Linked DNA regions of Homo sapiens. The protein of the gene in region 1 interacts with the protein of each later gene in a biochemical or structural test. Each region holds a gene or a part of one and is shown on either strand. Other genes may lie near its edges. The genes, in order: FBXO7, IRF3, NFIA, TEX29, MBNL1, CILK1 and PDE12.

Region 1 (4,003 bases):
TAAACAATATAATTTTTAAAGGACTTCATCTTTTGTTAACCTCTCAAAAAAGTAATGAAATTAGCATTGCTGAGTGTAAATGTTTTTAAAAATGTTTTATAATGTTTTGTTATTGTTCCTCACCACTGTGTGATGAAAAACATTTTATTCTTCTAATGTCAAATAATCTGTGATGCAGAAAGAATGGGAGTTTGTTGCTTCCGGGCTTATTTGAATTCTGAGCTTGTTTAACGTGGGCTTTTGGGTTTGCGCTATGTTCCACTAAAAGGCATCATAACTGATGATCAGTAGAAGGGTGAATTTAGCTTGTCATCATCAGTAAGAGAGATGAATTTATACTCAGTCATATACATAATACTCCTCTAACTTTTTGTGATTATGAATATATGGATCTGGTTTTTCGGAACCATTATAAGTAAACTGTCCTGTAAGGATATTGAATAGACATCCTTGATTTCACGCTCATCTCTTGATCTTCCCAACTAGTGTTTGGTGGTTGCATTTATTTCACAAGTACTTTATTTGCCAGTGTTGAAGATATGGTTTGAACTGTTCAGACAAGATCGCTGATCTTATGAAACTTAAGTTGTAGTGGCAGAGGTAGGGTAGACAGATCATAGACAAGTAAATACGATGTTTTCAAGTAGAACATAACAGAATAGAGAGCGCTGGAGTCTGAATGAAAGGCATCTCTGAAGAGGTGACATTTGGGCTGAGACTGGAATGATGAAGAGGAGTCAGTCATTTGAAGATCTGGAAGAACAAACGGAGAGGCCCGAAGGCTGCAATGAAGTTGATCTGCTTTTTGGAACGGATGGAAAGCTCATGTGAATAGAGAACAGTGAGAGAGGATGGATGGCACAGGATGCAGTAGGAGAAATGGGAAGAGGTCAGACGTTGAGCTTTGGAAGTTAGGTTAAGGATTCCAAATAGAAGCTATTGGAAGATTTTAAGTGAAGGAATGATGTGATCTAATTTGTATTTTAAAGGTATTTCACTGAATCTTAGTTGCTGTCACTTGTAAGACATATTGTTTTATGTAACAGCAGGGGAAAATGCTGTCAATTGATATGTCATTGATTTTAGGAAGTATCTTAATTTCAAAGATGTCAAAAAAAATTTGTGCATCTTAGAATTGAGGAAAGCATGGATTAGTGATAGAGGATTACTGTATCCCGTCCCCCAGGTGGAGAGTTTTAGCCATTAGAAATCTATAGATTAGGCATTCATTGATAAATACTTTTGATAATTTTCTCAAAACTATAAGCTTGATAGGGTAATGCGTGCCTATAGTCCTAGCTCCTCTGGAGGCTGAGGTGAGAGGATTGCTTGAGCCCAGGAATTTGAGGCTGCCATGAGCTGTGATTGTGCCACTTCACTCCAGCCTGGGCAACAGAGTGAGACTCTGTCTCTAAAAACAAACGAAAACAAAAACAAAAATGTAGCTGGACATGGTGGCTTATACCTGTAATCCCAGCAACCCAGGAGGCTGAGGCAGGAGGATTGCTTGAGGCCAGGAGCTTGAGACCAGCCTGGACAACATAGTGAGACCTTGTCTCTTCATCACTTAGTTCTTCTAGGGTCATACTGTGTACTTATGTATGCTTCAGATGTGCTATTGAAGGTATTAGAAGTAGGTAGTTCTTACTATGCTTATCTGTCTTTCTTGGCAGTTCTAATACCCGATTTACAATTACATTGAACTACAAGGATCCCCTCACTGGAGATGAAGAGACCTTGGCTTCATATGGGATTGTTTCTGGGGACTTGATATGTTTGATTCTTCAAGATGACATTCCAGCGCCTAATATACCTTCATCCACAGATTCAGAGCATTCTTCACTCCAGAATAATGAGCAACCCTCTTTGGCCACCAGCTCCAATCAGACTAGCATGCAGGATGAACAACCAAGTGATTCATTCCAAGGACAGGCAGCCCAGTCTGGTGTTTGGAATGACGACAGTATGGTGGGTATTAAACACCAATATATCAAATAGAGTAGGTGATAAGTCATATTGAACACCTCAGTTGAATTCTGTTCCAGTCAGGATAATTATCATCGATAGATTGCACATTTTATATATATTTTTTTCTTTTTTTTTTTTTTTGAGACAGAGTCTCACTCTGTCACCAGGCTGGAGTGCAGTGGCGCAATCTCTGCTCACTGCAACCTCTGCCTCCCAGTTCAAGCGATTCTCCTGCCTCAGCCTCCCGAGTAGCTGGGACTAGAGGTGCACACCACCACGCCCAGCTAATTTTTGTATTTTTAGTAGAGACGGGGTTTCAGCATGTTGGTCAGGATGGTCTCGATCTCTTGACCTCGTGATCTGCCCTCCTCGGCCTCCCAAAGTGCTGGGATTACAGGCATGAGCCACTGCGCCTGGCTGCAGATTATATTTTTATAGAATATATTTTTTTTAACTGCCAAATGCCTGTACCAATATGGGGCTGGCATCCCAAAGTACCTAGTGTCTGTCTGTTTTGTTCACATACTCTCCTTCAGATCAGTTATTCCTTGACTTCTATTATTGTTCCTAAGCTCATGATTCCTAGCCTTGCTTCTCTGATCTGGTCCGCTCATTAAGGCTATAGATGTGGTCTAATTATTTCCAGATGACTTGCAGGATATTTATACCTGGATTTTAAATTGTCATTGCAGACTTTAGATGTTGAACATAAATTTGGAAATATGTGTGCTCAGTTCCCTTCTTTGTCAGTGGCACTGCTGGTTTTCTGTGATTTTTGACTCCTTAAATCTAGCCCATTAATAAGCTTTGTCAGTTCTTCTTTTCCATTTCGGGTTCCATGGCTTTATTCCTCAGTCTGTTTTCTGGATTTGCCTTCTTCCTACATGGTTCTGATGCTATTGTTCCCTTGCTGTCTTTCATAACTCTATCTCATAAACTTGTGCTCATAATTTTTGAGCTGAAAAAGACAATATATCTCTAGTTCAACCCTGTCATTTTACAGAAGAGGAAAATGGTGTCTGTCCTCCTGTACCTAGTGCTCAAGGCTTTCTGAAAAGTTACTCCACTCAACTTTTTTAGGGCTAGTTTCTGTTCTTCCTTCCTTTAAACTGTCATCTCCAATCAGAACAGACCCATCATTTTCCCCCGCCCCCACCAACCAGCACATTCACCTGCTTGCATGCATGTGCACACACACAACCTGGTGACTACTTTTGTGACTTTGCTCTTGCTGTTCACCCAGACTGGAACCTGTTACCTTTCCTCCCTCTCTAGTCTATATTTCTACCCATCTTCCTAAGCCCTTGCCAACCATAGCCCAATAGTTTTCTTTAATTTCTTTGTATTGATTATCTGATTATCTTTATTGCCTTGTACATGCCTCCTCATTTTTCCCACCTTTTTTTTTTTTGGTGACAGGATCCCACTCCCTCACCCAGGCTGGAGTGCAGTGGCACAATCTCAGCTCACTGCAACCCTACCCTTCCGGGGTCAAGCGATTCTCCCACCTCAGCCTCCCGAGTAGTTGGGACCACAGACACCACCACGCCTGGCTAATTTTTGTATTTTTGGTAGAGATGGGGTTTCACCATGTTGCTCAGGCTGGTCTTGAACTCCTGACCTCAAGTGACCTGCCCACCTTGGCCACCCAAAGTAATGGGATTACAGATGTGAGCCACCGTGCCTGGCCTTTATCCGCCCTTTTAATTTTTTGAATGGTGCAAATGATCACCTTTATTTTTTTAATACCAATACACATGCCTTCTTGTTAATTGGTTTTTGTATGTATGCTTATCACCTCAATTTAATTGCTGGCCTTAAACATTTTTGAGTATAAGTATTCATGGTAACTTGTCATGGCATTAAGTATAGACATATTAAAAAATACTTTTTAATAGATTGGTAAATTGTGAAAATTATGTCCAGATATGTGGATTTTAATTTATTTTTAAAGTTATTGTTTTATCTGTGTGTTTCTGCCTCATAGAGGTAAACTGGGGAATGAGTAAGAATATTTCGCTGTATATTTAAATTA
Region 2 (4,289 bases), on another chromosome or scaffold:
GTGGAGCACTTAGCACAGTCTCTGGCTGGGAGCGAGCTGCTCACAGGGAGGCAGGGGCCGGACCCCACCTGATCAGCATCTTCCCAGCTCGGCTCCTGGGTGCCATGTGCCTGCCTTGGAATTGCTCCCAGAGCAGGATCTGTGTTCCCCATTGAGTTGGCTTCTCTTTTCAGCAGCCCCGTGAAGCTGGGGTGATCTCATCAACTGTCCTGAGAGGGAAACTGAGGCACAGAGCAGCAAGGGCCGAAGGGTGAGTCAGGGCTGCGCTGGCTTCTGCCAGTTTCATCACCCAGAACTGCGGCCCAACCAGGAGAGGTGACAGTGCCCAGGGTCACCAGGCAGGCAGGCTTTGCAGGCTCCAGGGTGGCCGCAGAGCCCCTTTACCAAGACCCCTCCAGCCCCACGTGGAGGGGAGCCTGAGGCCTGGAAGGAGAAGGACCACTTGCCCAAACTGTTCATAGGCAAGGCAGGGGGCCTGGGTTCTGGCTAGTCTTTGTGTTTCCTACTCTGTGACCTTTGCGCCTCTCCCAGCCTGTGTCTTGGTCTACAACACGGGGACAGCCATCACCCACCAGGTCCCTGGGCAGAAGTGAGGAGGTGTCAGCTGCCCCCTGCAGTGCTTGGTCTTCATGCATTGAGCACCTGAGTTGTATATAGCTGCACAGATGGGTAAACTGAGACCCTGAGCGGGAATAACAACCATATTGGGTCAGAGGGCACCCAACACCAGACACGCACAAGTGATCATAGCAGGAACCAGTTTATTGGTTGAGGTGGTGGGGAACAGGGGGGTTGGAGGCACACCATGAGGAGCGAGGGCTCAGCTCTCCCCAGGGCCCTGGAAATCCATGCCCTCCACCAAGTCCTGCAGGTAGGCCTTGTACTGGTCGGAGGTGAGGGAGAGTGGGTGGCTGTTGGAAATGTGCAGGTCCACAGTATTCTCCAGGGAGGAGGCACCCCCTACCCGGGCCATTTCTACCAAGGCCCTGAGGCACGTGGGCACAACCTGCAGGGGAAGTGGGGACAGGAGTCAGGGAAAACACCCAGCCACTGTCCACCAAGGTAGGAGTCAGGGCTTGGAGGACTACAACTCCCTGCAGCCCCTGCTGTAACCTAGGATGAACCATAGGCCTAGGGCTGCTGGGAGTTGTAGTTTTACACACACACACACACACACACACACACACACACACACACACACCCCCTGCTGTAACTGAACCATAGGCCTAGGGCTGCTGGGAGTTGTAGTTTTACACACACACACAAACACACACACACACACACGTCAGGGCTGAGCAGTCTGTGATCTTGACTCCTGGGAGCCACAGCCATGGCCTCACAATGGCAGCTAAAACTTGAGTCCACCAGCTTCTACATGGTTTAGAGCAGGGGTCCCCAACCCCCCTACGGCTTGTTAGGGACCAGGTTGCACAGCAGGATGTGAGCAGCGGGTGGGGGAATATTACTGCCTGAGCTCTGCCTTCTGTGAGATCAGCGGCAGCATTAGATTCTCAGAGGAGCACAAACTCTATCGAACTGCGCACGTGAGGGATCGGCTGCTCCTTAAGAGAATCTAATGCCTGATGATCTGCAGTGGAGCAGTTTCATCCCGAAACCACACCTCCCTGTCCGTGGAAATATTATCTTCCATGAGACTGGTCCCTGGTGCCAAATAGTTTGGGGGCCACTGGTTTAGAGAGTTCAAAACAGGTTCTGCAGGTGAGGCCATGGGAAGGAGCTCCCGGGGATGAAAAACTGGTTATTGCAGAGATCTTGGAAGTTGCAGTTTTTTAGAGGGCCCTCTGGGAGTTGGAGTTCCTGGGAGCAACCTCTTCCCTCTGTAAGGCCACCCCTTTCAGCCCCAGGGACTCAGGTCTGCAGGCACCTTGACCATCACGAGCCTCTTGGTCCACGGCTGGTCCTGGGGCCATGACTCCCCCACACAGAACCAGAGGGCATAGCGTGGTGAGCGTCCGCTTCCTTCCGTGAAGGTAATCAGATCTGGGGGCCCAGGAGCCTAGTCAGGGATGAGAAGAGGACCCTCTACCCACCCTTCCCCGTAAACTTGAATGATAACCCCCACCACCTCCCCTGACCTAAGGCCCTCTGCTGCCTCGACCAGGGGACTGCTTGTTTGGGGAAAGTCCCCTCCTTCCCTCCCTCCCTCCCTCCCATCAGGGTGGGGTTGTTGGAAGGCCACACCCCCAAGCCCCCAAGCCTCAGCATTCATAACAGGCCCAGAGTAGGGGGCCCATGCTCCCAAGGATGCTCAGTGAATCTGGAGAAGCTGGTTGGCATTCAGTCCTGTCTGAGGCTGCATTGTCCAATTGCAGCCATTAGTCATGTAAGGTTATTTCAGTTTAAATTGTAACCAATTAAAACGAATCACGTCCTGGTTGCACTCGCCTCACCTGAGTGCTTGGCCCCTGTGGCTAGTGGCTGCTGCACCGGACAGTGCAGGTGACTGTCATTTCCATCATGGCAGAAAGTGCCACTGCACAGCGAAACCCTAAGGGATGTAGCTTTCCTGCTATTGGTCTGTTCACCATCATTAGTTACGATGATGATGACAGTGGCAGCTAATTCCCTGAGCAGGCTCTGTGTACTGGGCCTGTGTCTCACCCCAGCGCTGGCAGGCAGGTAGAGAGAGGAGACCATCCTTGGATTCCACGGGCTCAGGGCAAAGTCCTTTGCCTCGGTTATACAGCGGGCCAAGGGCAGCCAGCGTCTGAATTCAGTCCTAATCATGAGTTCTTTTTTTTTTGTTGTTCGAGATGGAGTCTTACTCTGTCACCAGGCTAGAGTGCAGTGGTGCGATCTCAGCTCACTGCAATCTCCGCCTCCTGGGTTCAAGCAATTCTCCTGCCTCAGCCTCCCGAGTAGCTGGGATTACAGGCACGTGCCACCACGCCCGACTATTTTTTTGTATCTTTAGTAGAGATGGGGTTTCACTATGTTGACCAGGCTGGTCTCGAACTCCTGAACTTGTCATCTGCCCACCTCAGCCTCCCAAAGTGCTGGGACTACAGGCGTGAGCCACCGTGCCCGGCCAATCCTGAGTTGTTAACCACTGTGCAGGCTGCTTTGTACTGGCCAGGTCGAAGCCCCTGTCTCACTCACCTACAATGAAGGGCCCCAGGTCAAACACGCCTCCTTCCTTGTCCTTGGGGACCTCGCCATCAGGCCCATGCCCGCTGTTGGGGAGCAGCTCCTCGCTCACTGCCCAGTATGTGTGGCAGTGCCCCAGCCGCTGGGCCCAGAGCCACTGCCCGGCCCGCCAGAGAGCCAGTCCCCCACCCAGGCAGCTCAGCACATGCCTCACGTAGCTCATCACTCCCCTGTCTGTCAGGGACATGCCAGGGTCTGGCAGTGTGACTGGCCATCCAGGCAGCGTCCTGTCTCCCACTTCGGACCCCACCAGCCGCAGGCCCTCCGGGCAGGAGATGGTCTGCTGGAAGACTTGGCGGCCCCGGTAGAAGGCTGTCACCTCGAACTCCCACTCTGAGCAGCGGCAGCAGCGGCATGAAGGGGAGAGGGGTTGAGAATCAGGGGCTGCCGCCCAGACCTCAGCCCTCCCAGCCTGCAGCTGACACTCACCTTCCCCCGGCACCAACAGCCGCTTCAGTGGGTTCTCAGAGGGCCCCAGGTTTGGGAAGGGAGTGGGATTGTCCAAGCTGGGGCTCCGCAGGGGCTGAGGGCAGGGCTCAGGGGCTACAGCCAGGCTTGGGGGTCCCGGATCTGGGAGTGGGGCCAACACCATGTTACCCAGTAACTCATCCAGAATGTCTTCCTGGAGGGAAACAAAAAAAGAGAATCAGGCATTTCCATATCCTTTTCTGGAGACTTCATATGGACCAGGTCTGTTCTCAGCAACGCAGGGAGGTCAGGCTTGAGCTCTGCCTTCAAGGGGCTTCCAGCCTGGGGACAGAGCCAGCCATGGCATCAACAGCCAAACAAACACTAATGAACGCCAGGTGCTACCATTCCAACCCAAGGATCTGGCTCTATGCAGGTAAGACCTGGGCAAAGCAGGCTGGGTAGAATTTCAGAGGGGATGCTCCCCCAGCTTGGGCCTCAGCAGGATCAAGGTGAGGGAGTTTTTCAGTTCCCAAGAGGCTGACAGCCCCCTGCGAATCGAAATCCATGAAATCCCGGGAAGGTGTGCTCGGGCCTTGAATGCTGGGTGAAGACTTGGAATTTTCTCCTGAGGAGACCGGGGCAGGGACAGACAGGGTCAGCACTGGCTCAGGTGAGGGGCAGGCTGGAGGCAGGGGAGTGGGGGGATCGTC
Region 3 (4,003 bases), on another chromosome or scaffold:
TTCAAAAAAGAAATCATTCCCATTGCTCAAACAGCACTCTGTGCAGCCTGGATGTGCACGCACATGCACACGAAGCACACACACGCCCCTACACAGACACTCCTAATCTTACACCTGCTCTGAAGCAGTAGGAAGTGAATTCTCAATCTGTCAACATGACCATCTGGTCTATCTGCATATCACGGCTTTCTCTATTACTATATGAAGGAATGGCAATCACGAAGCCAAAATAAAACTAAAATGCACCTGAATGGGAGTAGCTCTCTTTTGGCTGAAATGGAATAATATGAGGTACAGCAGAACAAAACTAGCAAGAATCTAAATAATTTGAAATGAGCATTCATGTCAGCATAATTAAGTGAACAATATGGTACAGGTAATGTGGTAATCAGTAATACTGTTGAGTAGGTTTATAGGACAGGTATCAGGCTTCCGAGACACTGAAACAGCTCCTTCAGTGATTGAAAGGATCTTTGCTATTCCTGATGCAAGCAAAATTAAGTAAAGGTAATAATGGTAGCAGCATGGAAGCAATCAGTAACTACTGCACTAAAAGATTACCGTGCAAAAGTGTTCTCTTTCTACCTTAAAACTAACAAGTACTCATACTGCTGCCATTAGGACAACAGCAACTTGCTTTGTCACTGGCTAATTAACAATTAAAGCAATTACCTGACAAATTGTGGTCACTTATTAATCTTTCAAACTGAATTTTAAGACTGCTAAAAATACTTCTAATGTTAGAAAATTCCTCATCTGCAAAAAGTGAAGATGGCTCACTGTGATTTAGCTTTTAGGCCTAATGTCACTTGAAAATTAGCAAAGGCCTTAGTTGAATTAAACATAAATTAATTTGTTTAATTTTAGATTTTAAATGTCCCCACACAGCTGCCTCCAAGCTTTTATTCTACCCCATGGCAGGTAATAATATCAAATATAAATTGTGAAACTGTCATTCTATGGCCTAAAAATAGCAACCTGCCTCTATCCAAGAAATGAGTCCTTAAAAAGTATAACCTTTCACAAAATCTAACTAATTTGACTGAGAATCTTTCTAGAATCTGATTACATTACCAGAAGTTTATACAGAAGTGGTTAAAAAAAAAAAAACAACAACTCTCCAGAAACTTCTCGGTTGAGTGCCTACTAATGAACAAAGGTTAACTTTATCTAAAAGGTCAAATGCCTGGTGGCTAAGGTTATGACCTTAACAACTTAAATTGTGACCTTGCCACGTGCCGGGTATATTGTAGATTCTGATACAGATCATCTGGTAAAGACTGGTCATAAATTAGCTTTACTGTTACACACCCACAAAGAAAACCATTTGCCACAATACCATAGTATCCCCAAGTTGTCATATGATACATGGGAAGGACAACTCAAATTGAGACCAAATTAAGGGCATAAAATGGTTTTGTTCTTTTAACAAGATGAAATTCTCAGGCTTATGAAATCACTCCAATTTCATTACACTTGTTACTGCTTATCAGCCACAAAATTCACAGTTCTAATGCCACTGGATTTAGAGGGAAAAAACTGGAATGTAGTTTATGTATTATATTTTAGCATGTCAATAAGTCTTAGAATAAATCACCTCCGCTTTAAAAAAAAAAAGATTGATTCTGCATTTGCTTCTAGTATTCTCACGTATGTTCTGAGATTTCAACTTCCTACCAAAGAAAGGTGGACACATAAAGCAAGAATTATTACACACAAATTTCAGAAGGAAAAGAAGATCTAATTTCTATGACCATCTAGGGGGAAAAAAAGGCATTCTGGAAAGGAAAAAAATATAACAATTTAAAAGAAAGAGCGAGAAAAAACGCATTATAGGTGAAAAGGCCACAATGGTTTTGGCATGTATCTTGAAGCACGTTTCAGAGTCTCTGCCTCCTGCCAATACTGGCAAGTTCTCAAAACTTTTAAGGAGGTAAAAACATTGTTTAGTGTTTACAAATCTTCAGTATTATAACAGATGCTTGTCAAATCAGTTGTATGTAAGTTGACCGATCTACCTCATATTTGTATTGGCAGCTTCCCTTCCACAAATAACAGGTCTCTGAATCTCTTAAATCAAATTTGAAATATTTTCAGACAAAAGACCCTTAATATTTTCTTTTACAGTCTTCCTGTTGCGCGCACAGAGAAGCAGCCATTACTGCGGTCCCGTGAAAACCAATGGCCAAACATTTGGCTGGCATTCAGGCATAACAAGGGATTCTGGGATACATCAGGAAAACCAAACCGAAGAGTAGTCTGATCTATGCTGCTGTCAATAAATCTTTCATAAGCAATAAGGATGCTAACTCTCCTAAGTAACCTTCTAAATGTCATTTTACCAACATAACCCCTTCAGGCATTGCAACAACCAACAACTGTGTTAGTTCAAGGATTGGGAGCAATAGCACAGTAACAAACCAACGACGAAAAAGAAGGCACGTAATGAGAACAGCGAAAAGATTGCATTTCTTTAAATAACAGAGAAATGTTTAAGACGAAAACTTAGAATGGACACTGCTTACACCGACAAAAACTTCACAGGTATTTCATTTTGATGTTATCTTATATGGAAGCACACATCATGATCTGCATCACCTGTTGGCACTTTCAAGTTTCGATGTTGGTCATCTATTCGGGATAATTTATAGGTTATATTTTTCTAAATATCTAAAAGGTAAAAACAAGATTTTAAAGAGTGCTTCTTGAAAGCACCTGTAACACCTATACTTTTTTTGCGTTTTGCTGTGCTTAACATATGCAGACACATTTTTTAAAAATTTTAACTTTACTTTTTCAGTAAACAAAACAAATGAACAACAACAGGGTTAAGAGTGGGTTAAAAAAGGGCTACTTATTCCTGCTTAGAGGTCACTTGAGAGGTGCTGACTTTTCATTCTTGCTACCCAGAATTGGCTAAAGCAAAAGGCAATTCTTATAATTAAGTATACATTTTTGAAAACCCAAATATTTGAAACACTTACAGCTCACATCCTCTAAAATACTCATCTATCCCCTGCCAACAGAATGCAAATGATGATGTGACATGCTTGCAAAGCTAATTTCTCCAGTTTCTTATGTAAGGGCAGATGGATAACAAAAGTTCTCTTTCTAAAACATATATTGAGAAAAATAATAGAGAACAGGCTATCAGCTGGCTTCTTTAAAAACTCACTAACATTTTTAGAATTAAAAATGTTTTGAAGAAAAGTGCAGTGTTTTTACAGGTAACATCTCTCCTTTGTAAAAAAAAAAAAAAAAAAAGAAAAAAAAACGTTAAATATTTGAACCCCAAAACAACCTACTGGTAGGATTCCACAACCCTCTTTCTTCCATCTGGCTCAAGTAACTGCCATGAAGGTAATCTAGCAAGACCGATATGTACATATATAAAGTCAACAAGTTACACAAGACCTGAGCGTTCACATAGCACAATGAGCCTTTTGTCTAAAACAAGACGAAAGGAACAAAGTAAAAATGCATTATTTTATCCAGTCCTCAATAGTTTTATCCTGCATGCTATTCTAAACACTGAAACATGCACAGGTAAGACATGCCTTGAAAAAACAGAAAAAAAATTTAAGATTTTACAATCAAAGCAACTCACTACATCAATTATCAATAGCAATTTTTCAATGTGTTCATGCAATATACAGGTTGGTTATTTTTAATATTAACCTCTCCATCAATTACTGAAAGAGCTGGTTTGTTTCCCTTAGCTATCTGAGACAACACTAAGAATTCCTAAATACAAAGCTACTAAGTCTGCGTATTAATGTGATTATTTTTCCTTCCTAAATGATCAGCAATTTGATAGTAATCTACCTCCAACTTCTTAATTGGCAAGGGGTTCAAGAGGCCTCAGTAGGTTAAAAACACTCCCAGCAGAAAACCAACTAAAAATATTGCCTCAATACCAAAATAAATGCTTTTAAACTAGATCATTTGTCAGTTAAAATATACTCTTTATTAAAAGGGTTTTCACGAGGCTTCTCTCATCCCC
Region 4 (4,003 bases), on another chromosome or scaffold:
AGTGAGCACCTGTGCTTGTTGATGAAAATCATAACCCGTGTTTAGTGAGCACCTGTGCTTGTTGATGAAAATCATAACCCGTGTTTAGTGAGCACCTGTGCTTGTTGATGAAAATCATAACCCGTGTTTAGTGAGCACCTGTGCTTGTTGATGAAAATCATAACCCGTGTTTAGTGAGCATCTGTGCTTGTTGATGAAAATCATAACCCGTGTTTAGTGAGCACCTGTGCTTGTTGATGAAAATCATAACCCGTGTTTAGTGAGCACCTGTGCTTGTTGATGAAAATAATAACCCGTGTTTAGTGAGCACCTGTGCTTGTTGATGAAAATCATAACCCGTGTTTAGTGAGCACCTGTGCTTGTTGATGAAAATCATAACCCCTGTTTAGTGAGCACCTGTGCTTGTTGATGAAAATCATAACCCGTGTTTAGTGAGCACCTGTGCTTGTTGATGAAAATCATAACCCGTGTTTAGTGAGCACCTGTGCTTGTTGATGAACATCATAACCCGTGTTTAGTGAGCACCTGTGCTTGTTGATGAACATCATAACCCGTGTTTAGTGAGCACCTGTGCTTGTTGATGAACATCATAACCCGTGTTTAGTGAGCACCTGTGCTTGTTGATGAACATCATAACCCATGTTTAGTGAGCACCTGTGCTTGTTGATGAAAATCATAACCCGTGTTTAGTGAGCACCTGTGCTTGTTGATGAAAATCATAACCCGTGTTTAGTGAGCACCTGTGCTTGTTGATGAAAATCATAACCCGTGTTTAGTGAGCACCTGTGCTTGTTGATGAAAATCATAACCCGTGTTTAGTGAGCACCTGTGCTTGTTGATGAAAATCATAACCCGTGTTTAGTGAGCACCTGTGCTTGTTGATGAAAATCATAACCCGTGTTTAGTGAGCACCTGTGCTTGTTGATGAAAATCATAACCCGTGTTTAGTGAGCACCTGTGCTTGTTGATGAAAATCATAACCCGTGTTTAGTGAGCACCTGTGCTTGTTGATGAAAATCATAACCCGTGTTTAGTGAGCACCTGTGCTTGTTGATGAACATCATAACCCGTGTTTAGTGAGCACCTAAGACTCTTAAGAGCTCTGCTCAGCCTTTTCAGCCCTTGAAGCCACTGACGATGTAAGTGAACTTACTGTCCCCGGACTGGGATGATTGACGCAGCATCGAGGGGGTCCCGAGGCTGATGGATGGGGCAGTGAGGCTCTAACTCAGGCTCCCAGTTGTCTCAGAGTCCCTGAACCCAAGGCTGCCTGCATCTCTTGGCCTGTGGCCTGCGTCCTCATTGCAGGGTGTCAGGGTTTGGAGGTGTCTCAGAGATGAGTCCACTCCCTCTCATTTTAATGGTGAGGAAATGCAGACCCGGGGGGCCAAGGAAGCAGGTGGCTATTCCCAGGGCAGGGCTGGAATCCAGCATCTCACTCCCCGGCCACCACCTTCACCATGAGCCCACTCTGTGTGCATACAAGCCCCTGAGATTATTTGAGTCTCTTTGTCCAGGAATGAGTAAAGCCATTTTCCTACCATGAGTGGTGCTGTATGCTGTCTTATGTGTGTTAATCATGAAGATGAGCCGGCAGTAGCCTGCAGTGCAACACACACCTTCCCCCTGCCCGGAGCTGTCTTTGGGAGTCTAGCTGCCTCATACAGCCATCTGTTTGGAGCCTGCACAAGAAACTAAAATGAGGCTGGATGTGGTGGCTCATACTTGTAATCTCCCAGCACTTTGGGAGGCTGAGGTGGGAGGATTACTTGAGCCCGGGAGTTGGAGGCTGCAGTGAGCCGTGTTTGTGCCATTGCACTCCAGCCTGGATGACAGATCAAAACTGTCTCAAAAAAAAAAAAAAAAAAAAGAGAGAGAGAAAGAAACGAAAATGAGAACTATTACATCAAAGCATTTACCTTAAAAAATAAGTATGCATGATCAGGAACCTGTGTTTTCAGAGGGATGTCCTGGTGGGTGGGAGGGAGGAACTGGAGAGTTTTCCATCTGTAACTTCCCTGACTGTGATAAAACCCTCTTCCCATCAGAGTCATTCAGGAGAGCAGGAAAGAAAAGGCCATCCCTGTGGATGTCGCGCTGCCACAGAAGTCCAGCGAAAAGGCGGAGTTGGCCTCATCCAGCAGCAAGTTAGGGCTGAAGCCTGCGAGTCCTGGGCCTCCAAGTGCTGGGCCCTCGATGAAGAGTGACGAGGATAAGGATGATGGTGAGAAGCTTCTGGAATGATCCTCAGCCTAAGGTCAAGGGCGTGGCTCTGTTCCCTCGGGAGACCTTCCCTGGGAAGGGGCTCAACATCTACACAGGCCCTTCAACCTCAGTGATCAGTGTTGCAGTTTGTTCAAAATTGTAATGTACCCAACATTGGAGGTTCAGGTTTGCAGGGTGGATGTGGCTGTCAGTGTGAGTTTCCTTCTGTGAGTCTTGTCCTCCCCCTTCCCATCCCCTTTTGCCTCCCTGTCATTTCACCCTCTGGCGGGGCCCTCATTGTTAGTGTGGGAAGCTCCTGGGGAGGGGGCAAGAGTCCTGCAGAAACTGCACATTTGATCAGGTGACTTCCTGTGGGGAGGCTGCAGGGCTGCCATGGGTACTCTCTGTGGCACCCTGGCCACGTGGTGGTCTTGGTTGTGCAGGGAGGCTGCCAGGCTGCTGTGGGTATTCTCTGTGGTGCCCTGGCCGCCTGGTGGTCGTGGATGTGCGGGGAGGCTGCAGGGCTGCTGTGGGTACTCTTTGTGGTGCCCTGGCCACGTGGTGGTCGTGGTTGGAGAGGTGGACGATCACTCTATGCCTGCTTCGGTTTCCAGGAAGGAAAGTTTCTCATATGTTGGTTTACCTGCTTTGGGGGCCCTTGGAGGTTGCCGGTTGCTTTTCCTAGATCAGCACCTTGCCAGGTTAGAGAAAGAAACATCTCAAATGGTAATCCTTATCTTCAGAGATGTTTGTACAGGATACAAACGGCCTGGCCTTACCCATTGTTACCAAATAGACTTGGCTTTACAGGGACCATCAGGAAAATCAGGAGGCAGGGTAAGAGGGCAACCCACACTTGATTTCAGATCTGGAATGCCTGGCCCCTAACTGAGGCTGCGTCTGTGCAAATGAGGCTTTCCTGCAGGACAGATGTTTGCCTGGTTAAGGGAGCCTCCTGTGTAGAGAGATGATGTGGGAGGAAGAGTGTTTTACTGTCCCCTAGAATGCAATGAGAAACATAGGAGGATACGGCCATCCCCAAAACTGGCTTTTGAATCAATCATTGCCAATCAGACACCATGTAGATGGGTTCAAAGATCCTGATGAAATCTTTTCGGGACTGCTGAATATTCCATTTGAAAAAACAATTCTTCTTTTCTAAAAATCTAGTAACAGGGACAATAACAGAAGCCGAAGAAACTGAGGACTGACTGAGACGCATGAAGAAGTGGAGATTGTCAGAATTATCCAAATGAAATGGTACAGCAGGTGCACTGTTAACAGTGTGATGGAATGACCACCCAAAGAGAAAAAAATAAAGGTATTTTGAAAATTGCTTCTCGTCCGATGTTGCTTATTCATTGCTATATTTTTATCTTAGGAGAGAGAAAGCCTGTGGGGTAGGAGAGTGGGAACCTGAACTTTCAGTTTTTAATGGCACTGCTTGTCACTAATATTAACACTATGGGGGCTCACAGCATGGGCTCAAGGTGGTGTCCTCGAGGTCTTCTTTTCAGAAGGCAGGCTGCACTTTCACCAAGAGTGGGCTGCCACACAGACACAGGCGGTTCAAGACTCTGGCATTTGGCTTTGCTAGGACTCAGCCGTGCTGCGAGGGAGGAGCAGCGTCTGGATCTGGATCTGAGAGGCCCCAAAGCATAGGCCGTAGCTGCCTGAGAGCCCCTCATGCAAGGCAGTGCGCTCAGTCCCAGAGTGGCCGACAGATGCTCACAGGCACGCGCAGGCCGGCCCAGGGCAGCCCACGGATCTTGGAGGCTCCGTTTTCTCACCTCAAAAA
Region 5 (4,003 bases), on another chromosome or scaffold:
TATGTCAATGTAGGCATCACCAAACAGGAAACTTGCAGAAGGTCTATAAGTGATCTCTCTCAGCTGCTATTTGCTCCCTCAGTAATTCCTGCTTTCTTGAATATGCTCAAAATGAATTGGCAGCAGGGAACTAATACTCTACTTTTCCAATTTAGGTTACTCTTTGCCGCATTAACAAGAAAGAAGACTTGAATTTATTTAGGTTCTGTGTGTATGTATTTGCATGTGTGTGTGTGTGGGGGGGGGGGTTTCTACAGGTTAAGGATTGGTTTATTATAATTTCATGTTCTTTACTCTCCTGTGGAACATTTAGAAAGAATTCTAAAAATATTTAAGCAGACTTAATAACTAAGAATTAGCTCAGAATGTGTCATAAAACCAACCTTTTCTGAGGTTAAAAAAAACTTAGTCAACTGCTTTTGCATAATATGCATGTTTGACTCTTTCATATTTTTATTTTTTTTTACAGCTTACGGTTTCTCCTAAGAAATAGGACAGAAACATACTGTAATAGCTACTCTCACATTATTCTTGCTTGTGAAAAAATAAGGAAGAGAAAATCTCTTGTGAAAACTTGTACTGGTGAGAGTTACAGGCCAGTGGGACTGGAAATTTACCAAGCATTAGATATGCATCTGAATAGTGGGGTACCTATGGGAACATGAACTTCCCAAACCTTCTAAAACACATTTTCCCTAATAGACATCATCAATAAAATGGGATCTATCCCTTGGTTGCTCAATATGAGTTTGATCTGGTTTCTCTGATAAACTCAAGGACACTTTAGACTATGCTGATACCCAAAATAAATCTCTTAGACATACTATTACATTAGTAAATTATAACTGACAACATTTCACAAATTTAATCTCATAATTAAAAACAGGATAAGAAATTATAACATTTATCATACAGAGAATTTGAAACAGAATATAAAATTAAATCTGAAAATTCTAACAACACTGTGGTTCATTTTTCTCTTCTCATCCAGTCTTCTGTATGTATGCACACATTTTTAAAAATAATTGTAATTATAGTATAGCTATTATTTGGTGATCTTTTATGCTCAACAATGCAGCATAAGCATTTCTCATTTTGCTAAATAATTTCCAGAGTGAATACTTTTGATGGCTGCATCAAATTTCATCAAATAGTGTACATAATACAGGTAACTCTTTTGGAGGATATCTAGATAATTTCCAGTATTTCCATATTACAAGTAATATTCCAAGAATATATCCATGACTATAGGCATTTTTCATTATTTTTGGCAGATAAATGTACAGATTTATTGGTATATGTGTATGTACTGGGTCAACACATAAAAATATTTTCTGACTGGGCGCGGTGGCTCAAGCTGGTAATCCCAGTACTTTGGGAGGCTGAGGTGGGTGGATCACTTGAGGACAGGAGTTCGAGACCAGCCTGGCCAACATGGTGAAACCTCATCTCCACTAAAAATACAAAAATTAGCTGGGCATGGTGGCAGGCGCCTGTAATCCTAGCTACTCAGGAGGCTGAGGCACGAGAATTGCTTGAACCTGGGAAGTGGAGGTCGCAGTGAGCCAAGATCGTGCCACTGCACTCCAGCCTGGGCAACAGAGCAAGACTCTGTCACAAAAGAAAAAAAATATTGTTTGATAAATGGTTTTCAAACCTGCATTAAAACAATAAGATCTATTTAGCTACACATATAATGTGATTCAACATGAGCCTTTTACTTTACAAATACTAAGGCAAGATTTGACAATGAAGATATTCACTGAAAACATTTAAGTTCTATTTCCAGAAAAACATCTATGGAATAATTATAAACTTTAAATAATCAAAAGAAAACATAATCAGGAAAATTTCCCAAGAAAATGTAAATTAATTCTAAATAAACCTTCTTTTGTTAACTAAATAGCAATAATATAGCGGACAGACAATAGGGTTTGGAGTCAAAAATTGTGAGTTCCAGTTCCTATCACTTTACTAGCTAAGGAATCTTCACAATGAAAACACTATTAACATCTATTTAAAAGGTCATGAATACTGAATAAAATAATGCATAGCTTACAACACACCATACAAATCTGGATAATATGAATAATCCTGTCATTTGATCTCTAATTTTTTAATACATGAAAAACTATATTTCAAAATGGTCAAAATAACGTAAGTTTTATAAGTAGTATTAAACTCAGCAATGCTCTCAAGTTAAAGCACTGGGATTCTAAGGAGATTAATGTCAATATTTGAATTTATTCAAAAGTGGAGGGTCATTTGCATATTCTTTAAGGAGATATCCCTTTGAGGTAATATGTTTTGTGTTCACCATATTTGTATAATTAACTCAGTCATCTTGGAGAATAACAATCAAAAGCAGGAACAGAAAGCTAATTATAACAAGAAACAGGGACTTTGTCCATTTTAACATTTTGAGAAGTCAATTTAATAGTTAATGGCCAATATTAAGAAACGTATTCAAAGACATATAGCTACATGTTCACCAATAAGCAGCATGGACTTCACTTTCTATTAAGCTGGAACTAACAAGCTAAATTTTTCTAAGTATTACTTTAAAAAGTAATCCTAGATAATCACTTTGATCAATCACTTTGATCAAAGTGTCCACAGCATCGCTGATCATGAGTTTATAATTTAATGTAAAGAAATTATCTCTATTTTCATTTAAAAAGGATTAAAATATCTACTTTGTAATCCTCATAATTCTGGTGATTAGGTAAATGTAACTGTAGTCAATTTATTGTACAATTAAAATCCCTAGATAAATATCGGATGATGTGATTTCTAGTTTCAGTTGGTGATATGGTTTGGCTGTGTCCCCACCCAAACCTCATCTTGAATTCCCACATGTTGTGGGACAGACCCGGTGGGAGGTAATTGAATCATGGGGGCATATCTTTCCTGAGCTGTTCTTAAGATAGGGAATAAGTCTCATGACATCTGATGGTTTTAAAAGGGTTATGTCCCTGTGCAACCTTTTTTCTTGTCTGCCACCATGCAAAACGTGCTTTCCGCCTTCTGCCATGATTGTGAGGTCTCCCTAGCCATGTGGAACTGTAAGTCCAATAAACCTCTTTCTTTTCGTAAATTGCCCAGTCTTGGGTATGTCTTTATCAGCAGCGTGAAAATGGACTAATACATTTGGTTATTCAATAATTGTACATATTTGATCAATTTTTCTCCTTCCAAAAAAATTCAAGAAAAGGACACCTACTTTAGCTACCTCATAGTATTTCTGTTAGGATCAAATGGGAGCATTCTTTGAAGCCTAAAAGGCAGACTCCATCATTACTATTCAGGCCAGAAAACACAAGCATGCTTCTATAGGTAACAGAACTAAGAATCTACCACTTGATCTCTTATAAAAACATAAAATAAAATCTGAATAGGAATGACCAAAGACAGAACCATTAAATCCACTTCCACGTTGTCATTTATTCATTCCCATGAATGACTGTGCAAACCCAAGAGGACAGGAAAATAGACACAACTTTGAAACAAGCTTGTCAATACACCAAATTAGCCATTACCTTATTTCATTTATGTTATTATTATTATTATTATTACTACTTGAGATAGGGTCTCCCTCTGTCACTCAGTCTGGAGTGCAGTGGTGCAATCTCAGTTCACTGCAGCCTCAACCTCCCTGCTCAAGTGATCCTCCCACCTAAGTCTCTCAAGTAGCTGGGACTGCAGGTGTGAACCACTGTTCTTAATATAGCAATTACTATACTCTATACCATATCAAAACTCTAATCACATAGATTAATAATTGACAGAGCCATAGTGTATTAAATTGTTTAAATGAAGATGTGACTACATTTTTAAGAGCCATTCTAAAGTTTATTACAGATATAAAAAAACAACCTACATAAACCTCTATGTGAAAACTCTTAAGGTTTCTTGGCAATTTTCTGGAGATAGTAAAAAAAGTCACACAAGCAGTAGCCAAACATCCTCTACAAAAATGCAAAATTAAAATAATCCTACCGAT
Region 6 (4,003 bases), on another chromosome or scaffold:
CAGCCTAAAAAATGGAGGCGAGGGGCAGGGAAAATTGTAGTTCATTCTTTATTTTGAAACCTTAATCAATGAATTAATGCCATCATTACACATTTTCTAAGACAGGAGACAAAAAGTTACAGCAAACTTGGGGTTCTCTGGGAGTTGTGGTTTACCAGGCCCACTGACACCATTCAGTTCCTTAGAAGGAGCTTGTCTCCCTTTGCATTAATTATCTTACATTGAAAAGATTCTGTTACTTTCATTTATCCTCCTAGGAAAAGTGGATTATATGCAAAATCATTAGATGACCCTTCTCATGGTAATTCTGAGTTCCATTTTACCTTTACAGGTTTATAATTAGACTTCGTATTCTAGGTTTGAATGTGTCCTAACTTTACAAAAGTCAGTGAATACTGTTAATTTCTTTTAAAAAGGTACTAGAAATAGTATATCCGGGTTTATGTTTTTCTCCTGGACCTAATTCTTCTGCCTCTGTACATTTTAGCAAGCAAACCTTTTAAGCATTTTGCCTCTTGGACTACTGCTTTTTTTCTGCATAAGGAATAGCAGTTACAAAGCCAAAAGGACCTTCTTTACATGGATCTTGCTTTGTCTTTACCTTGACAGAGGAGTGAATTAAAGATGCATTCAGCTATTGCATCAACTGGATGTTAACAAGAGAAGATAATCCGTTACATGATGTGCCTTCTTCTGTGCCCCAGAAACTTCTTCATACCTTTACCATCCCTCTCCTCTTTCAATCCCAGCTTCTGAAAAAAGAACTCGTCCTGCACTAGGTCCTTAATCCCATGAGAAGCTTCCATAACTCCCTGTCGCTTCTCTTACAATATAAAAGGTGCTCACGCCTTGAACCTTAAAAAAGTTCTTCAATCACTTGCAGATGATTTTTAAACTAGGACACATAGTTGGCTTTGGTGGACTGTAAAGAACTGAAGTAAAGGCGAAATGTTAAAAAAAATAAAAAATAAAAAAACAGCCAGAAAAACAAACCTTTACCCTGCCATGTGTGAAACTGTAGATGAGCTAGAACGAGAGTCCCCAGCTTAATGAAAACTGCCGAGGGTGGCAATAGTCCTGCTTGCCTGTGTTTCAGGGGTGGGCAAGATAAGGGATAGTGAAGATAGGGGAGTGACTAAGAGCATATCACAAGTTCATGTAGATAGTAACTTTCATGATACTGGCAAATAAGTAGCTGGACGTTACACAATAATACTTTACCTTTCTGGTTCTAACGCATTATCTTTTACGGTAGTTACAAGGACAGCCACATGTTATCAGTATTTATATGCTATTACAACACATTTGACTAAGGAGCTGATCTCAGTGTAAGATGCTTTGCTAGCATGTATACAAAAAATCAAAATGAATTAAAGGAAGTAAAGGCTTAATGTAAAAATAAAATAGGGCAGGGATAAGCACGTTTTTTCTGTGAAGGGTCAGTAAACAGGATAGGCTTTGCAGGCTCTCCATCTCCGTCACAACTCCACTCTGCCATTGTAGCATGAAAGCAGTCAAAGACAATATGTAAATACATGGGCATGGCTGTGTTCCAGTACAAATTTATTTACAAAAACAGGCAGCAGGAAGGACTGGCACACAAGCCATAGTTTGTCAAGCCCTGAAGATGAGGAAATCCCCCAAATAAGCAGAAGCACTTTAGTACTCTCCATAGAGCCCTCACTTACCCCTAGGTTACAGGGCTACATACAAGCTGTGTTTAACCTTAGAATATAAGCTCTGTGAGGTCAGAAACGTTGCAATATTCACAACTGTATTCCCAGTACTCAGTTCCCAGAGAACTGGCATAGTTGGCACAAGTACGGACTCACAATAAAGACATGTTCAATGAATTAACTAATGAATGAACAACTTATGGAGCTTTAAAAGGCAATCCTGACCATAGATGATTTTCCTATACTACCACGTCCACCCTCACTGTCATCCCGTCACGCCCCACTTCTTTGCAAACTGGACAACTGTACTGGGACTAGGGTACCAAAATTATGACTCCTTCTAAAAACTTTTACACTAATTTAGGAAAAAACTTGCTTTTCAACAGCTAAGATCACATGAAGGCATGTATATCTTACATTTTTCTTACTCCCCTTTGTCTTAGTTAAATCATTCTCTAGTAAATTCTCTTTCAAAGCAAAGGCAATGTCCAAGAGGGCAAAACCATTAATAACTATCTTTTGGGAACCACAAGTTCATGCAGATAGTAACTTTCATGATATTGCCAAATACGTATTTGGGCATTATACAATAGTACTTTCCTTTCCGGTTCTCAGGCATTATCTTTTATGGTAGTCAAAAGAGCAGTCACATGTTATCAATACTTTATCACAGGTCATGCTTCACCTATAGAAAGGTAAAAAATAACTCACACTGATCTCTCCTAAAAAAACGTGTGGTTCTCATAAGCTCTGGGCCATCGTTATACATTTATTAAGTGGCTACTAAGGGTTCTTGACATGGTGGGAAAAGCACCAAATGAAAAGCAAGGCACTATTGTGGCCCTTTCATTTCAAAAAAAGTGAGTTAGGATGACAATCATCTGCTAGGAACTACAAGTTCACGCAGATAGTTACTTTCATGATATTGTCAAATATAGTTGGACATCACACTTATAATACTTTATCTTTTGGTTCAGAGGCATTATCTTTTATAGCAGCCATGATGAGCTTATTTAAAGATAAAATATAACTGAATGCTAATTAACATAGATTTGAATGCTAAATTCATTAGGAACTATGTTCAAAGCCTAATGTTGAACAAACTTCAGACAATAGAGTTAAGAATTTTTTTTTTCTGTAAAGGACCTTAATGATCACTTGACATTCTCACTCTACAGATGAGATCCAACTAAGAAGAACAGAATACTTGCTATCTTCAGAGTAGAATATTTTGAAATGTGTGAGTATAATACATGTTTTATAGCCAACTAAAGATGTATCAAATGTTCCCCACGTGCTCCTTGGTAAAAAGCATATGAATATTTTGCTAATCCTGAGCCCATATAGTTTAAAAAAAGGGGGGAGCAGATGTTTGAAGATGTGCTATCCTCAAACTCAAACATGACTTCACATGTCAACATATGTTGGATTTGATTTCAGCCTGCTCAGGTAAGTCCCACGACAAGACACTCTTCCTACCCAGGAAGACTTCAACTTTCAAAGCACAGAGAGTCAGGTACTTAATGTGCAAAGATAGTTCAGTTTCCTTGGAAGAAAATCAGGAATAGAAGCCTTCTGTTTGGGTTGAGTGTTTCCCTAAAACCTGTTGAGTAGTAGTTTTTCCTAATATTGGACAGCAGTTAACTAGGAGCAGACAGATTGAATGAAGATGCCCATATCAACCTTGGTTACCACCTTGAGGTAGGCCTGAGCTGCTGCTTTTACTTCTTTGGCTGCAATCAAAGGCATCTCTGATTTTCTTCCTGCCACAACATTTCCTTAGCATTTTAATGCAATTTGCCCCAGAAAATGATTTGTTTCACCAAATTCTTTTTACTAGGTAATTTTCTAGAACACATGTGCTTTTATAAGGAAGTTAAAACTGTATTTCAAAGGTAAGCACAACCACAAACTAAGACACAATTACACTGTAATCCCAAAACGTGTATAAGTCATCCGGCACACACACACCTCTGTTTGCGCATTCTCCCTGATTCAACCACATCAACCATAAACACTGAGGTTCACAGATAGGAGAGTTCTAATACTCTAAACATAGGCCCTTCTCAGAAAGCCACAGTCATCAAAGACCACAGGTGAAAGACAACAGTTAAATGAGATACTATTCACAGGCTTTCAGATCAACATACACAGAGAGGTCATTATATCCAGAATTCTCCCAAGGAACCACCAGGCAAATACACACACTCACATAGATCCCACAAGCAGAAAAATGCATTTTATAAGGGCAGACATCAATAGAACGGCTAGGTACCACTCCAACTCTGCAAGATCCTACAAAATGAAATGGAGGAGACTGCTGCAAG
Region 7 (4,003 bases), on another chromosome or scaffold:
AAGCAATTCAAATGTCTGTCAACTAATGAATGGACAAATGTGGTACGTCCATAAGATGGAACATTCATCATAAAAACAAACTCCTGATACATCCTACAACAGTAAGAACCTTAAAAACATCCTAAGTAAAAGAAGCCAGTCACAAAAGACTACATAAATTATGATTCAATTTATATGAAATGTCCAGAATAGGCAAATCCACAGAGACAGGTTAAGTTGTTGCCAGGAGCTAGGGAGAATGGGGAGTGACTGCCAAGTGAGTATGCAGCTTCTTTTGGGGGCCAGTCCTTGTCAACTGAGTTGATATGCAGTGACAAAAAAAGCTCTTAAGGAGAGTGGGATTATGTGACGTGAGCCACTGTGCTGGCCTGATTCCATTATTTATAATAGAATTATTAAAAACTCTACAGCTGGGATAGAAATACCCTTTCTTGGTTTAAGATACCCAAAACACTATAGCCCAGCTTTTCTGAGGAAGGCCACTGTTTATTTCTAACTGATTTTATCTTTGGATGTACCATTTCTCCAAACTATTCCACAGGGGATATAAGAATTATATGCAATAAATCCTTTTTTTAAAATTTTATTTTATTTTATTTTTGAGACAGAGTCCCGCTTTGTTGCCAGGCTGGAGTGCAATGGCGTGATCTCGGCTCACTGCAACCTCTGCCTCCCGGGTTCAAGTGATTCTCCTGCCTCAGCCTCCCCAAGCAGCTGAGACTACAGGCGCGCGCCACCATGCCCAGCTAATTTTTGTATTTTTAGTAGAGACAGGGTTTCACCATGTTGGCCAGGATGGTCTCGATCTGACCTCATGATCCACCGGCCTCAGCCTCCCAGAGTGCTGGGATTACAGGCGTGAGCCACCGCGCCCAGCGCAATAAATCCTTTTAAAAGTGTGTATATCACATTTTAGAATAACTGAGAGAGTACAATTGGAATGTTCGTAACACAAATGAATGCTTGATGTGATGAATACTCAATTTACTCTATCAAAAGAAATATGTCCCACATAAATATATACACCTACTATGTACCCATAAAATGTTTTTAAAAGTTGATAAATATGTTTTTTTCTGGAGAAAAAATTTGTTTTTAATTTTTTTAAAAAAAGGGCTATGTGTGCTGGCTCACACCTATAATCCCAGTACTTTGGGAGGCTGAAGCGGGAGAGTCATTTGAGCCCAGGAGTTTAAGACCAGTCTGGGCAACATAGAGAGACCCCCATCTCTACAAACAATTTAAAAAATTAGCCAGGCATGGTGGCATGCACCTATAGTCCCAGCTACTCAGGAGGCTGAGGTGGGAGGATCGCTTAAGCCCTGGAGTTTGATGCTGCAGTGAGCTATGATCATGCCACTGCGCTCCAGCCTGGGCAACAGCAACACCCTGTCTTATTTAAAAAAAAAAAAAATGTGTGCTGACTGGGTGGGGTGGCTCATGTCTGTAATATCAGCACTTTGGGAGGCCGAGGTGGGTGGACTGCTTGAACTGAGAATTTCAAGACCAGCCTGGGCAACATGGTGAAACCATTTTTTTTTTTTTTTTTGCCTATAAAATATACAAAAATTAGCCAGGTGTGGCGGTGCGCACCTGTAGTCCCAGCTATTTGGGGAGGCTGTGGTGGGAGGATTGCATAAGCCCAGGAGGTGGAGGTTGCAGTAAGCCGTGATGGCACCAGTGCCCTCCAAGCCTGGGTGACAAAGCCAGACCCTGTCTCAAAAAAGAAAAAAAAAGTGTTTATATTATCCAGTATAAGAAAGCCAACTAAATAAAGCCTATCCATTTCCCCTACTGAACCATCTTCAATATATAAGGAACACAAATGGTATGAAACTAGCACAAATGCAACCTAGGAATACTTCAATACACTAAAAAAAAAGTACATCAATACTTCATGATAACATCATTAAAGTGAATTACTGGGCAAAATGGACTGTGTTATATAAATGCTTTGACATACATTCATTACATAAATTGGACAGAAGATAGAGATGAATAATTCAGTTTTCTGTGAAATTTTGCGGGGAAATTTTAAATTATGAGTAAAAATCTAACACTGACAGTATGAACATGGATTTTTGACAACCCAGAATTTGCTAGCATAGCAGATAGGTGAACAGATTTACTATATTTAAGATTATTTTGCCATTTATATATAAAATTAAAATTTAGGCCGGGTACCGTGGCTCATGCCTGTAATCCCAGCACTTTCAGAGGCTGAGGCAGGCAGATCACTTGAGTTCAGGAGTTCAAGACCAGCCTGGCCAATATGGTGAAACCCTGTCTCTACTAAAAATACAAAAATTACAAGCAGTACTGTATGGTTATTTTGAAGTTAGTGCTAAGAAGAAAAATAAAATCACGAAGTTAATACAGCTCTAGTATTTTTAACATTTAAAAAAGTACTTTCATATAAAGTGAGAACACAGAACTTATATATTACCCATGTCAGTTAAAGCTGTTAAAAATTGTCCTCCCTACCCCCTACAACATGAAATCTAGAGTGGTTTTTTGAAGACAGGGTCTTGCTCTATTACCCAGGCTGGAGTGCAGCGCACCTTGATCACAACTCACTGCAGGCTTGACCTCATGGGCTCAAGTGATCCTCTGGCCTCAGCCTCCTGAGCAGCTGGGACTACAGGCATGCACCACCATGCCTGGTTAATTTTATTTTTTGCAGAGATAGGGTCTCACAATGTTGCCAAGGCTGGTCTTGAACTCCTCAGCTCAAGTGATCCTCCTGCCTCAGCCTCCCAAAATGTTGTGATTACAGTCAAGAGCCACTATGCCTGGCCCTCTAGATAGTGTTGCCTTCCTGTACTATATTAAGCAAATTATTAAAATTCTCAAAACACTGAAATATTTTTTATTTGTGTTTAAAAAATTCATTTTCAGGGCTGGGGGAGGGATAGCATTAGGAGAAATACCTAATGTAAATGACGAGTTAACGGGTGCAGCAAACCAACATGGCACATGTATACCTATGTAACAAATCTGCACGTTGGGCACATGTACACTAGAACTTAAAGTATAATAATAAAAAAAGAAAAAAAGAAAGTTAGTTTTCAGTTATGGAAGGTTGGGCTTGTAATCTCAACTACTTGGGACGCTGAGGCAGGAGGATCATTTGAGCCCCGCAGTTTGAGGCTGTAGTAAGTTATGACTGCACCACTGCACTCCAGCCTGGGTAACAGTGAGACTCTATCTCTTAAAAAAATTATGCTGAGAATATTTTCTGAGTTGTCACATGGGTCTTGTGATAAACTAATAATGCAAACTTTTATTTTTCATTATATATAAATATTGGATTTATCCCAACCAAACTAGTTTGCAGGGAACCTCTGCCTTTATTTCACGGCTGGAGAATGAGATACAAAAGATGTCAATTTCCATCGTAAGAACTTTCCACAGTAGTGTTCTTTGGACATTCTCTCCCTTGTATTAGGCTCCTCAGAAATCTATCTCCAGACTGAAACCAGCACATTCTGATGAGATCATAGCTTAGTACTCAGAAAAATCACTACTCAGTGGAATTCTTGAAATTTTGAAACAACTGATTTTAGCATACAGAATTTCAAAAAGAACATACATTACAGCCAGAAACGATTGTTTGCTCATGAATTTTGATTATTGGCAGACACATTTGCTGTAGCGGCAACTGTGCAAGAGTTCATTTTAACAGAATAATATGTTCTGAAATACTCTTTTATAATCAATATAAAATTCTAGAATGTTAATTCCTATAGCAAGAACTTGTGACATTATAAAATGTGGTTTACCATAGAAAGTCGCTAGATTTCCCATGTTTTCTTAAAATTAAATGTACTAAAAAATCCAAATGTAATAGAAAAATGCAATCACATAGGTGCTTTAAACAGACATTTCTGAATAACACTGCATTCTAACTCATGAGTACAAAGAAATGTGTATGCTATTTATACATTTTCTTAGTGTTCCCTACCTTTGGACTCCAATCATTTTAACGTATCCGTATACTGGA

The links.
Region 2: of the proteins of FBXO7 (region 1) and IRF3, one has a biochemical effect on the other in vitro, tested with the Homo sapiens proteins (one large-scale study listed by BioGRID).
Region 3: of the proteins of FBXO7 (region 1) and NFIA, one has a biochemical effect on the other in vitro, tested with the Homo sapiens proteins (one large-scale study listed by BioGRID).
Region 4: of the proteins of FBXO7 (region 1) and TEX29, one has a biochemical effect on the other in vitro, tested with the Homo sapiens proteins (one large-scale study listed by BioGRID).
Region 5: of the proteins of FBXO7 (region 1) and MBNL1, one has a biochemical effect on the other in vitro, tested with the Homo sapiens proteins (one large-scale study listed by BioGRID).
Region 6: of the proteins of FBXO7 (region 1) and CILK1, one has a biochemical effect on the other in vitro, tested with the Homo sapiens proteins (one large-scale study listed by BioGRID).
Region 7: of the proteins of FBXO7 (region 1) and PDE12, one has a biochemical effect on the other in vitro, tested with the Homo sapiens proteins (one large-scale study listed by BioGRID).

What each region holds. Positions count from the first base shown.
Region 1 is NC_000022.11:32,477,308-32,481,310, forward strand, and holds part of FBXO7 (F-box only protein 7), read left to right. Parts: intron 1-1,673; coding exon 1,674-1,968; intron 1,969-4,003. UniProt on the Homo sapiens protein: Substrate recognition component of a SCF (SKP1-CUL1-F-box protein) E3 ubiquitin-protein ligase complex which mediates the ubiquitination and subsequent proteasomal degradation of target proteins and plays a role in several biological processes such as cell cycle, cell proliferation, or maintenance of chromosome stability.
Region 2 is NC_000019.10:49,658,828-49,663,116, forward strand, and holds the end of IRF3 (interferon regulatory factor 3), read right to left. Parts: intron 3,791-4,289; coding exon 3,598-3,790; intron 3,502-3,597; coding exon 3,121-3,501; exon of another isoform or gene 2,623-3,120; intron 2,018-2,622; coding exon of another isoform or gene 2,002-2,017; coding exon 1,886-2,001; intron 1,007-1,885; coding exon 821-1,006; coding exon of another isoform or gene 762-820; 3' UTR 745-761; downstream 1-744.
Region 3 is NC_000001.11:61,088,957-61,092,959, reverse strand, and holds part of NFIA (nuclear factor 1 A-type), read right to left. Parts: intron 1-4,003.
Region 4 is NC_000013.11:111,340,708-111,344,710, forward strand, and holds the end of TEX29 (testis-expressed protein 29), read left to right. Parts: intron 1-2,048; coding exon 2,049-2,224; intron 2,225-3,375; coding exon 3,376-3,416; 3' UTR 3,417-3,541; downstream 3,542-4,003.
Region 5 is NC_000003.12:152,439,426-152,443,428, reverse strand, and holds part of MBNL1 (muscleblind-like protein 1), read right to left. Parts: intron 1-4,003. UniProt on the Homo sapiens protein: Mediates pre-mRNA alternative splicing regulation. Acts either as activator or repressor of splicing on specific pre-mRNA targets. Inhibits cardiac troponin-T (TNNT2) pre-mRNA exon inclusion but induces insulin receptor (IR) pre-mRNA exon inclusion in muscle.
Region 6 is NC_000006.12:53,054,909-53,058,911, forward strand, and holds part of CILK1 (serine/threonine-protein kinase ICK), read right to left. Parts: intron 1-4,003.
Region 7 is NC_000003.12:57,562,400-57,566,402, reverse strand, and holds part of PDE12 (2',5'-phosphodiesterase 12 isoform 1 precursor), read right to left. Parts: 3' UTR 1-4,003. UniProt on the Homo sapiens protein: Enzyme that cleaves 2',5'-phosphodiester bond linking adenosines of the 5'-triphosphorylated oligoadenylates, triphosphorylated oligoadenylates referred as 2-5A modulates the 2-5A system. Degrades triphosphorylated 2-5A to produce AMP and ATP.